2 separate regions of the Homo sapiens genome follow, and region 1 is linked to region 2. The links come from fine-mapping of genetic effects on gene expression. A gene starts in region 2. The other region holds a variant in brackets. All regions are shown on one strand. Distances are from middle to middle.

Region 1 (5,000 bases), 110 kb after region 2:
GCCAGATTTTACTTACGAAACCAAATAAATTTCTTTTTTTTAAAATATGTAAATTTGTTAAATTAGCATGCAGAATATGGCAGTAATACCCAATTGAAACACTAGTTGGTTGTATATTAAATCTAATAATAGGAAATATGAATTTGCCTTTAAAATGTATTTCATTTCACTTCTATTTTTAGCTGTGCCAAATGAAACAAAGTTGGACTTCATGTATAAAGGCTCTAGTAATGTCCTAGGTCATCAGATAAATAGAAGCCTTATTATTTTATCACAGGTGGCAAAAAGAGGACTAATTACACAGACTTGTGAGAAATGAAGTTGCCTATCTACTCCATAACTCTTCTTTTGGCTACAGTTTCCTTCTCTTGGTATTTTCAAATTGTTAAATTGAAAATTGTTAAATGTAAGTTGGGAAATTAAAAGATTTAATTGTTAAATGTAAGTTGGGAAATTAAAAGTCTGTGTAATTAGTCCTGTTTTTGCCACCTGTGATAAAATAATAAGGCTTCTATTTATCTAAGAAGACCCGGGCATACACAACAGTGGTTTTTAAAAATTTACCGTCAACTTGAAGTATTTTCCTTTCTCTTCCATGAAGAGCAGTAACATTTTTTCTCTTTTCTTATTTTTAGTAACTTTTATCTTCCTGACTTCCATAGCCAGCATCTTATTTTCTTCTTGGTGTCCTTTTTCCCTTATCAAATGTAACCAGGATCTTTATTATAGTGGAAATGGGGCCAGTTGATGAAGTCTAATATGAAACGAATATTTTAACTTTCAAATGCAGAAGAGCTAAGTTGCAAAGATAGCAGAACTGTCCAATCTGTCTACCTTCACAGCAGTGCTTCTTACATTTAAGAAGCAGTCTGTTGAGGACCAGTTTTGTTTTTTAAAAAAATGTTCAATTCCTCACCAAAAATACATAAAAACATACAATCCGATTATTTTATTAGGTTAATTGACATAAAAATAGTCATTTTTCCATGAAAGTTTCTAAATATTTACTTTCAGTTTGTATAATTACCTCATGGTGGACTGGTAGTGAAGTTTGTGGTCTGGCACTGATATGTAGACCATACTTTGGGTAGCATTGCTCTAGATTTTCTAGCAAATCAGGAAAGCCAAGGATGTTGAGCTCTTGTTTACATAACCAGATTGAAAGCTCTTCAAAAGCAGGTCCATATGCTGTTCATCTTATTTGAAGGATTGGGACAGGGCCTGATACATAGTAGGCAGGTGGTGAAAACTATAACTTAGGCCACAGACTATAAGCTGATAATAAGTGGGATCATAAAGCTGAATGGGCTAGTACAAATTCTGCGAGTATTCCAAAATATGAATTGTGAAATATTAATAGTAATTTAGGAGGGTTTCCATATCAGAGTATCATCTTTTTCTTTGCTTTAAAAAATGTCTGATAAAGTGTATTCAGTCCTGAATGTCAATTGAGAACTGGCTCTCATCACTGGCTTTCATAATAATGTTAAACATTTTGCTCTATTTTAAGAAAATAGGCTGGGTGTGGTGGCTCATGCCTATAATCCCAGCACTTTGGAAGGCCAAGGCTGGCAGATCATCTGAGGTCAGGAGTTCGAGACCAGCCTGGCCAACACAATGAAACCCTATCTCTACTAAAAATACAAAAATTAGCCGGGCGTGGTGGCGTGTGCCTGTAATCCCAGCTACTTGGGAGGCTGAGGCAGGAGAACTGCTTGAACCCAGGAGGCAGAGGTTGCAGTGAGCCAAGATTGTGCCACTGCACTCCTGCCTGGGTGACACAGTGAGACTCCCTCTCAGAAAAAAAAAAGAAAACAAAAGCCGCTTGGTGCCAAACATAGTCTATAGGGGAAAATAAAATTTAAGAGATTTAGTAAGGTTGAACCATTTGAAATTAGCATACTTGTGAGTCCAAAACAGTTGAATACTGTTGTATTTATATGGCTCAACCTACAGATATAGCAATATGGAATGTAATTACTTGGGGGCACATGCAGCTCATATAGCAAATTCTCTTTGCTTAATTTTAGGGAAATTGAAGCCCAGAGAATACATTTGAAACAGTAAAACCATACTATAATTAATTGTACAGTAAATCACATTTCACAAATTTACTGAAGGTGAAAAGAAAGGACAAAATCAGTTTGCTTTTCTTTTTGGACTATATCTACTTAGAGTTTTGGACCATTTTCCTTTTCTTGATGGAGGGGAGGGAGGGAGGGTATCACTCTGTTGCTGGGCTGGAGTCCCATGGTATAATTTTGGCTCACTGCAGCCTTGGCCTTCTGGGCTCAAGTGATCCTCCTACCTCAGCCTTTCCAGTAGTTGTCACCACAGGTGCATGCCACCATGCCTGGCTCATTTTTTGTATTTTTTATATAGTTGAGATTTCTCCATGTTGCCCAGGCTGGTTTCAAATTCCTGAGCTCAAGCAGTCCATTTGCCTCTGCTTCACAAAGTGCTGGGATTACAGGCATGAACCACCGTGCCTGGCCTCAGTTTTTACTTAAAATAATGGCATAAACAATTTGAGATTTGATTCTCAGTAACGAAACCAGTTTCAAGGGAAATCTTTATTTAGTCTTTTTTTTTTTTTTTTTTTAAAGACAGGATCTTGCTGTGTTGCCCAGGATAGAGTGCAATGGGTATTCATAGGCACAATCATGGCACACCGTGGCCTTGAACTCCTGGGCTCAAGTGATTCTCCTGCCTCAGCCTCCTGAGCAGCTGGGACTACAGGTGCACACCACCACATCTGGCTTTTATATGTAGGTTTTTTT[T/G]GTTTGTTTGTTTTCAAACAAGAAAATGTTTAAGAGCTTTATAAAATACTTATTTACCTAAACTCTTTTGGACAGTTTCACTTGCTTTAGATCATTATGTAATTTTTATTCTGCAGGCTATAGAAATACAAGTTTTTTTGACGTGGCATTTGATCTTTAATTATATAAATTTATATTTTTCGAGGAAGAAATTCTGATGGCATAAATCAGGATTAAAAAAACATTCTCTTTAAGACTCATTACTAACAATAGTCACCAGAGGCAAATTGCTTTTACTTTCTCAAGGTCTTAATTTAATTGTGCTTTCAACTTGGCAGTGTTGTATATTTTATAAGCTCCACTAAAGAACACATCTACACATTATGACATAGCACGTTCTTGGAAACTTGACAGAACTGTTGACAAGTACAGATTTGTTTTTGGTTACTGTGAGTATTTTTTGTGGTAATTGAACTGTTGTTAGTTCTTGGTAGCTTTATGTGCTTGTCAGTCTGTTTTCTTCATAAGTGATGATTAATTTAAATCTGTGTGATGTGTTCCAGTTCACTTACTTGATGGAAATTGGAGAAGTGCATAGCTTTCTGATATTCTTAATTACTGGTTCCCATTAAGTGACTGGAGAAGCAAATATTTATGTCTCAGGTATTGTAGTATTGAATTTCCAGTCATTCTTTCTTCCTGGCTATAACTTAGTCACTGAAGAAATAACTATCCTTTATTCAAACAACTTCCTTGGTACAATCCAGCAATATGTTTTTTTTCTTGCAATATTAAAAACCTCCGATGTAAGTGGAAAAAGAGTTATTTCCAAGCAGAATGAGAATAATCATAGCGCTGGGCACAGTGGCTCACACCTGTAATCCCAGCACTCTGGGAGGCCAAGGTAGGTGGATCACCTGAGGTCAGGAGTTCGAGACCAGCCTGGCCAATATGATGAAACCCCATCTCTAGTAAAAATACAAAAAATTAGCTGGGTGTGGTGGTGGGCGCGTGTAATCTTAGCTACTTGGGAGACTGAGGCAGGGGAATCGCTTGAACCTGGGAGGTGGAGGTCTCAGTGAGCTGAGATCACACCGCTGCATTCCATCCAGCCTGGGCAACAAGAGGGAAACTCCACCTCAAAAAAAAAAAAAAAGAATAATGATAAATATATTATTTGTGGATAAGAGTTTTCTGCATTTTAAAAAATTATTAAAAAGGATATACAGTTGTCCCTTGGTGTCCATGGGGAATTAGTTCTAGGATCTCGAAAATCCTCAGATGCTCAAGTCTCTGATATAAAATAGTGTGGTATTTGCATATAACCAAAATACACTCTCCCATATACTTTAAATAATCTCTAGATTACTTATAATACGTAAAACAACAAATGCTACATAAGTACTTGTTATACTGTATTGTTTAGGGAATAATGATAAAAAAAAGTTTGGTACATGTTTATTATAGACACAGATTTTTATTTTGAATATTTGGCCCTCAGATGGTTGAATTCCTAGATGTGGAATTCACAGATGCAGAGGGCCAACTGTATATGACTTACTAGAAATACCATGATAAAGAATATTTCCTATGATTAATTTTTTTTCTTTCTTGGAAAAATTGGATTACTTAAACTCCAGGTTGTCTTGTATTTGGATCAATAAGATATTCTAGAAGTTATTTCCTTGACAATATTTTATCTAGTTTGTTAAAAAAGAGTTGCAAGTTATTAGGCTGCATTAATTTATCTGTTATATTTGGTCATAGAATTCATGTCCCCAGTATTTGTTTTTTTTGTTTGTCTGTTTCTGACAGGGTCCCTGTTGCCCAGGCTTCAGTACAGTGGTGCGATCACTGCTCACTGTGGCCCCCTGTCTCCTGGGCTCAAGCAATCCTTCCACCTCAGCCTCCGGAGTAGCTGGGACTACAAGCATGTGCCGCCATGCCCGGCTAATTTTTGCATTTTTTGTAAAGACAGAGTTTTGCTATATTGTTGTTAGGGATAGCGCTCAAAATCCTAAGGAAATTGAACACTCGAACAAAGGATTTTTAGCAAAACAATTTTACTTCTGCGCAGAGGGGTGCCTCCTTGGCTGGTTGCCGTGAGAGCACACCTGAATAAAGGGGCGTGAGAGCCTTTATTCCTGATGCAAGTCCTGCCCCTGCACCCTTTCCTCATTTGCTACGGTTGGGTTGTACAATCTAAACTAATCCCGGTTGGCTAAACGTTTGATTTTTTAA
Region 2 (5,533 bases):
CCGGGTTTTGCCATGTTGGCCAGGCTGGCCTCAAACTCCTGACCTCAAGTGATCTACCTGCCTCAGCCTCCCAAAGTGCTGGGAGGAGTGAGATTTTAATTGCGAATTACAGAATACTGCGTTACCTGTGTCATCATCAGTCATATAACAGGATATGTGGACCAACATCTCTGACTAAGGCTAGATTCAAGGAACAGGCATCAGTGCCCAATATGGGCACTGCAAGGGGGGTGCGTGTGTATGCCAGAGCTGGGAGGGTGTATAGGGATGGTGCAGGGGTTGGGGGGTTGGGGGGCAGTGTGGGGTGGGATGAGTGGTCTGGCTTTGGCAAAACCAAAGAGCTGAAAGAGGCCTATTGTGATGGGTGGTTCTCAAATCAATCTTGTGGGTTAGGTATAATATTTGACTTTACTACATTTTATAGATAATAAGGTTAAGGCAAATTAACCTTTAAAAATCAAGATGGAGACCCAAGCCAACCAGTGAAGAAAGCAGAGCCTATTTCCTGCACTCTTCCTGCCTTCTTAATGCCTCTTCCCCCAGCCTGTGCCCCCTGGCTATCAGGCCCACTGTGGCAGCTTACCCAGCTTTACTTTTGGATCCCTCATGTGTGGTGGTCTCAGAACAGTACCAAACTCTTAAGACTTGGCTTCCTTTTTTTTTTTGTAGGATCCTGTCCTTTCCAAACTAGATTATTGTATAAACTGATCCCTCCTAAGGTAATAACAGTTTCTAACACAAATTTGCAGTTTAACAGGGCACTGTGGAAGCATATCTGCAACTTAGAAGTGACTGACTCCTTTACCACAGCAAGCCAAAGTTGAGTTTAATCTTTGGGAAGGCACACAAATGACACTCCCACTGGCAACTCATTTACATAGATTGCTCTTTAGAGGAGACACACATTCTTTCATTTGGTTCTCATAGAGCTGAGATGGGAAAAAAGAGACAATTATTATAGTTATTTTACAGATAAGGAAACTGAGGTTTAAGGAAATTATGTCCTAACACCACCTAGGAAGTGGCAGGGAATGGATCCTAATACAGAACTCTTCAATCCTTTTTCTCCATCACGTTGCCTTGTTGCCTACTGAAAATTGTGTTGAGGGGTAGCTTCATCATGAACAAAATCGGTCCTAGCACTCTGATCCTGGTTCATGTTCAGGGTCTCAGTCTGCCTTACTCTGGATAACTTCAAGTTGTTTGTCTGTTGGTGAAAGATTGGTCACAAAAGGTGTTGCTAAAGATGTTCTCATTAACAATTTTACTGTAGATTAAAGAGATCAGAATTCCAAAATATCCAGTGATTTCAGTTAGTCCTCAATCATAAGTTTGGTGTCTGAGAAGCTTTGGACACATGGTATTAGGAAATTTTTTCTATCTGCAGATTGCTAGTTTAAATTCAAGATTCCCATCTTTTTTTTTTTTTTTTTTTTTTGAGACTGGGTCTGAGATCTCAGCTCACTGCAACCCTCACCTCCCAAGTTCAAGCGATTCTCCTGCCTCAGCCTTCCGAGTAACTAGGATTACAGGGGCGCACCACCACGCCCGGCTAAATTTTGTATTTTTAGTACAGACGGGGTTTCACCATGTTGGTCAGGCTGGTCTCGAACTCCTGACCTCGTAACCCGCCCACCTCGGCCTCCCAAAGTGCTGGGATTATAGGCACGAGCCACCGCGCCCGGCCAAGATTCCCATCTTTTAAGTGAATTGAGCAGATGGCAGACCCTGCCCTCTACCTGCTGGACTGGTGTCCACAACAGATTTAACAATGAAAACTGATCAGTGAAAAGGCCGTCTCGCTGTACCCTAAAGAGCTGTTTAGGAAACACTGAAACCTCAGTGATTTGCTTATCTGTATCCGTGTCTGATTTAGCCAGTGAACACGTGATGGTTTTAAACACACATCTTTAGAGCACTATGTTGAGATCCGCTTATAACCAAGATCTTAAGGTAATAACGAAACACACCTGACAGAACAGTTTTCCTCAAATTACTATATATAGCCAGATATATCTCTATATATCCATTCCCGAGATGCTGGAGAGTAGAGAGTAAAATTCTATACTTTGCACTTGCCAGAAGCAGAGTAACATAAATGTTGTCTAGGAAGCTTTTACAACAGACTGGTGAAAATTAAAACACTTTTCAACGCCTCGATTTAGAGTAATTTTCGTGAGCGTAGAGAAGGGGCTGGGCCAGGACCACCAAGTAGGGACTATGTGCACAGGGACCCGCGTTTACCAGCCTGCCCTCAGCTGGGCGGGGAACCGGACAGCCCTCAGCCTGCACCCAGCCCATGCGAGGTCCCAGCCCAAGTCCCGCCCCAGTATTACCGATGCCCCAGCGGGCTGAGCCACTTTCTCCTCCTCTTCGTCCTCCAAGATCGCCTCCGCTGCCGCCAGGGCCTTTAAGGGGTCTTCGCGTTCGTACTGGGCGACCCGCGCTCCAGTGATGGGATTTACCGGGGTCTGGAGACTGGAGGCCACCAGCTTCGCCACTCGGTGGGAGGTGGCCATCGCCCCGCCTCCGAGGCCTGAGCGCCTGCGCTGGCCCGGGACGGGAAAGCTGGTGCGGCCCCTGGCAACCCGGGGGCGCCTAGCTAGGGAGCCGGTTGCTATGGGCGCCGTAACTGGGGACGCTACAGGAGCCGCCAGGGACCAAAAGTCACGCAAAATCCACTCAGGCTGCCAGAGACCCGAGTCGGGTGCTTACTGGATCATGGCAGTCAGTACCGAGTCTGTTGGCTGGTTCCGAAGGTTGGCAGGCTGAACAGGGCACTTATTCCACTCCTTTGCGTCTAACCGCCTGAACGCAGACTTCTCACATTATACAATGAAACAACTGCTTTTGTGAAGAAAAGAACGCTTTTTTATTAACTGCAATAACATGTTAGAAGGAGACAGTTGATGGAGGAGACGGCGGCGGCGGAGGAAAGCAGGGCGTGTTACTGGGTGGCGGTCTCAGAAGAGTGACAAGGTTGGCGTCCCGCTACCTAACATGTCTCCCGCGGGGGCCAGAGTGGGAAGGAGGGCGGTACATTCTACTCTGATTGACTTGAGGGCTAGCAGGAATCCACCAATCAGAAGGAGGCTCCCAGTTGTCCCTCTCGCTTTTTTCTTGACATGACCAATAAAAGCCCAGAGTTGGGTGGCGCCTGACCCTCCCACTAATGAGTGATAGTGCAGGTATTGTAAACCTGGCGTTTGCTTTGGGTTCTTCAGCTTGAGAGTGACAGGATTGAACGGCACAAGTGCCCAAGAGTCACCACAGACACATCCATCTCCCTCATCCGTATCTTCTCTTCCCACTCGGGATTTGGACGCATCAAATGGCGCCTTCCCTCTGCACCACGTGGCAGTAAGAGAAGCCAAACCTCAAAATAGCGGACGTGGTGCAGTCTCAGACATCTGCTCCCTGAGCCCCTGCTTACTGAGGCCGAGGCTGCCGCCCCCTATCTACTCCCTATCTACCCCCTCTCTATCCTTTGCCCTCCTCCTGCTCCCCAGCCCTACGACCGGCCCCCTCCGGTCAGTATTTTCCTCGTTATGCGCTGCACATCGTCGAGAACCCGTCTCTAAGGTCTGAGCCCTTACCAAACCTTTGTTCTCCTGTCTGGGTGTGAGCACCTACAAAGTCTCCTACGTCCCCACTTCCTTCAGGCTGCTCTTGGTTTTAGCTGAACAGTTGCTTCCCATGCTGGAACAGATGCTGACTGGGTTCTAAGCAGAAGCCAGAGCCAGAACCATGAGATATGCACCGCCAGGTGTGGCCAAGTTTCCAGGGGAGCAATTTCCAGTCAGACACGGCAGCCAGTTTTGTGGCTACAAAACTGCCTCAGCCTCCGGAGTAGCTGGGATTACAGGCGCACTCCCGGGAGGCGGAGGTTGCAGTGAGCCGGGATGGCGCCACTGCACTCCAGCCTGGGCAATAAAGCAAGACTCCGTCTCACCACCACCACCACCAACAAAAGTATTGATAAGGAATTATAGCAGATGAATTATAAATAATGAAATATCCTATTCTCTTTACTGTAAATTCCTCATAGACAATTGCTTCTCTCAGAATGCTTTCGTTGGTTTATGCTGTACTCCTGTATTTGTGGCCAACTTATGGTTGCAATTGTTTAACAACCTAGTTCCAACATGAATGTTGGTTAATATTTTTGTTTTTATTTGTGATTAAGATGAGAGTGACATATCCAAGATCTATGTCAGAATTTCACTTGTCAATGTTATGAGCAACTTCTTTGCTGAAATAGATAATCATTTTCTAACACTGGAATAATTTTTCTTAATTTTTTCTGCAAGTCACAATGTAAAGGCTACAGATAACACAAACTTTTAAGTTTACTCTGCATTAATATTTTCCACATCCGTTTCTTAAGTTTAAATGTCCAATGTTTAGCTTTTGCTGATTTCCATGATGTCAATATTCCCATCATAGCCAATTTCAAGCCACCAATGTGACATCACTTAATAAGAATTTGAGAAAAGATGTCTAGTAGCACACCATTATATAGTATTTCCACCATACAGATACAGTAGATGCAAGGAACATAAAAGAAAGTGAAGAGTTTTAAGAAATTATCTTTGTTTTTGACATAATTTATTGTAATTAACAAAACAATTTTTTTTTTTTTAAGATGGAGTCTCCTTGTCACCCAGGCTGGAGTGCAGTGACGTGATCTCGGCTCACTGCAACTTCCGCCTCCCAGGTTCAAGCGATTCTCCTGCCTCAACCTCCCGAATAGCTGGGACTACAGGTGCCTGCCAACACGCCTAGCAAATGTTGTATTTTTAGTAGAGGGCAGGGTTTCACCATGTTGACCAGGCTGGTCTTAAAATCCTGACCTCAGGTGATCCGCCTGCTTTGGCCTCCCAAAGCACTGGGATTACAGATATGAGCCACCACGCCCAGCCAAGTTAGACATTATAAAAGAAAAATAACTAGAAAAGCCTTTTTAGTTGGGAAATTTAAAACTCTTCAAAAAACAATTTGTGCATTACAGAAAAAGTCATGGCAGAAATTATCTAGAGAGTCAAATAACAACAAAAATACAATGTGTCAAAATGTCTTAAATGTAAAATGGTGCAGCCACTTTTTAAAAGTTTAGGCCTTCTTTCTCCCACCGTCCCTCATGTTCTTCCTTTCCATCTTGGGCCTGGCAGAATGGCTCCTGCAAAGAAGGGTGGCAAGAAGATGAGCTGTTCTGCCATCAACAAGGTAGTGACCCAAGAACACACTTGGGTCACTAGCTCACATCCATGGAGTGGGCTTCAAGAAGCATGCTCTGTGGGCATTCAAAGAGATTCAGAAATTTGCCATGAAGATGGGCACTCCAGATGTGTGCATTGATACCAGGCTTAACAAGGCTATCAGGGCCAAAGGAATAAGGAATGTCCCACACCATGTACATGTGCGATTGTTCAGAAAACATAACAAGGATGAAAATTCACCAAACAAGCTCAATACTGTGGTTACCTGTATACCTGTTACCACTTTCAAAAATCTAGATAGTCAGTGTGGATGA

Alleles and levels. Positions count from the first base shown, and alleles are read on the strand shown. Sizes are in standard deviations (SD) of each study's normalised expression.
For the expression in unexposed skin of the gene that starts at base 2,538 in region 2, T is the high allele of the variant in region 1 and G is the other (small effect, 0.29 SD a copy in GTEx).

The links. PIP is the estimated chance that this variant, and not a neighbour inherited with it, causes the effect.
Region 1: its variant is fine-mapped to the expression of FAM161A in unexposed skin (GTEx, PIP above 0.99). The same link has a PIP of 0.9 or more in pituitary.

The regions. Positions count from the first base shown.
Region 1 is chr2:61,966,363-61,971,362 of GRCh38, forward strand. All of the region lies in intron 1 of COMMD1 (copper metabolism domain containing 1), which reads left to right. Among named protein-coding and RNA genes, the nearest start is that of COMMD1, 63 kb to the left of the region's middle. The variant T/G (reference allele first, on the strand shown) is at 2,781.
Region 2 is chr2:61,851,523-61,857,055 of GRCh38, forward strand. It overlaps FAM161A (FAM161 centrosomal protein A), which reads right to left and starts at 2,538. Exons shown (of 7, transcript NM_001201543.2): 1 at 2,337-2,538. The coding sequence starts at 2,519. It also overlaps the pseudogene RPL31P30. RefSeq lists enhancers at 2,022-2,151, 2,312-2,471, 2,712-2,941, 3,682-3,731.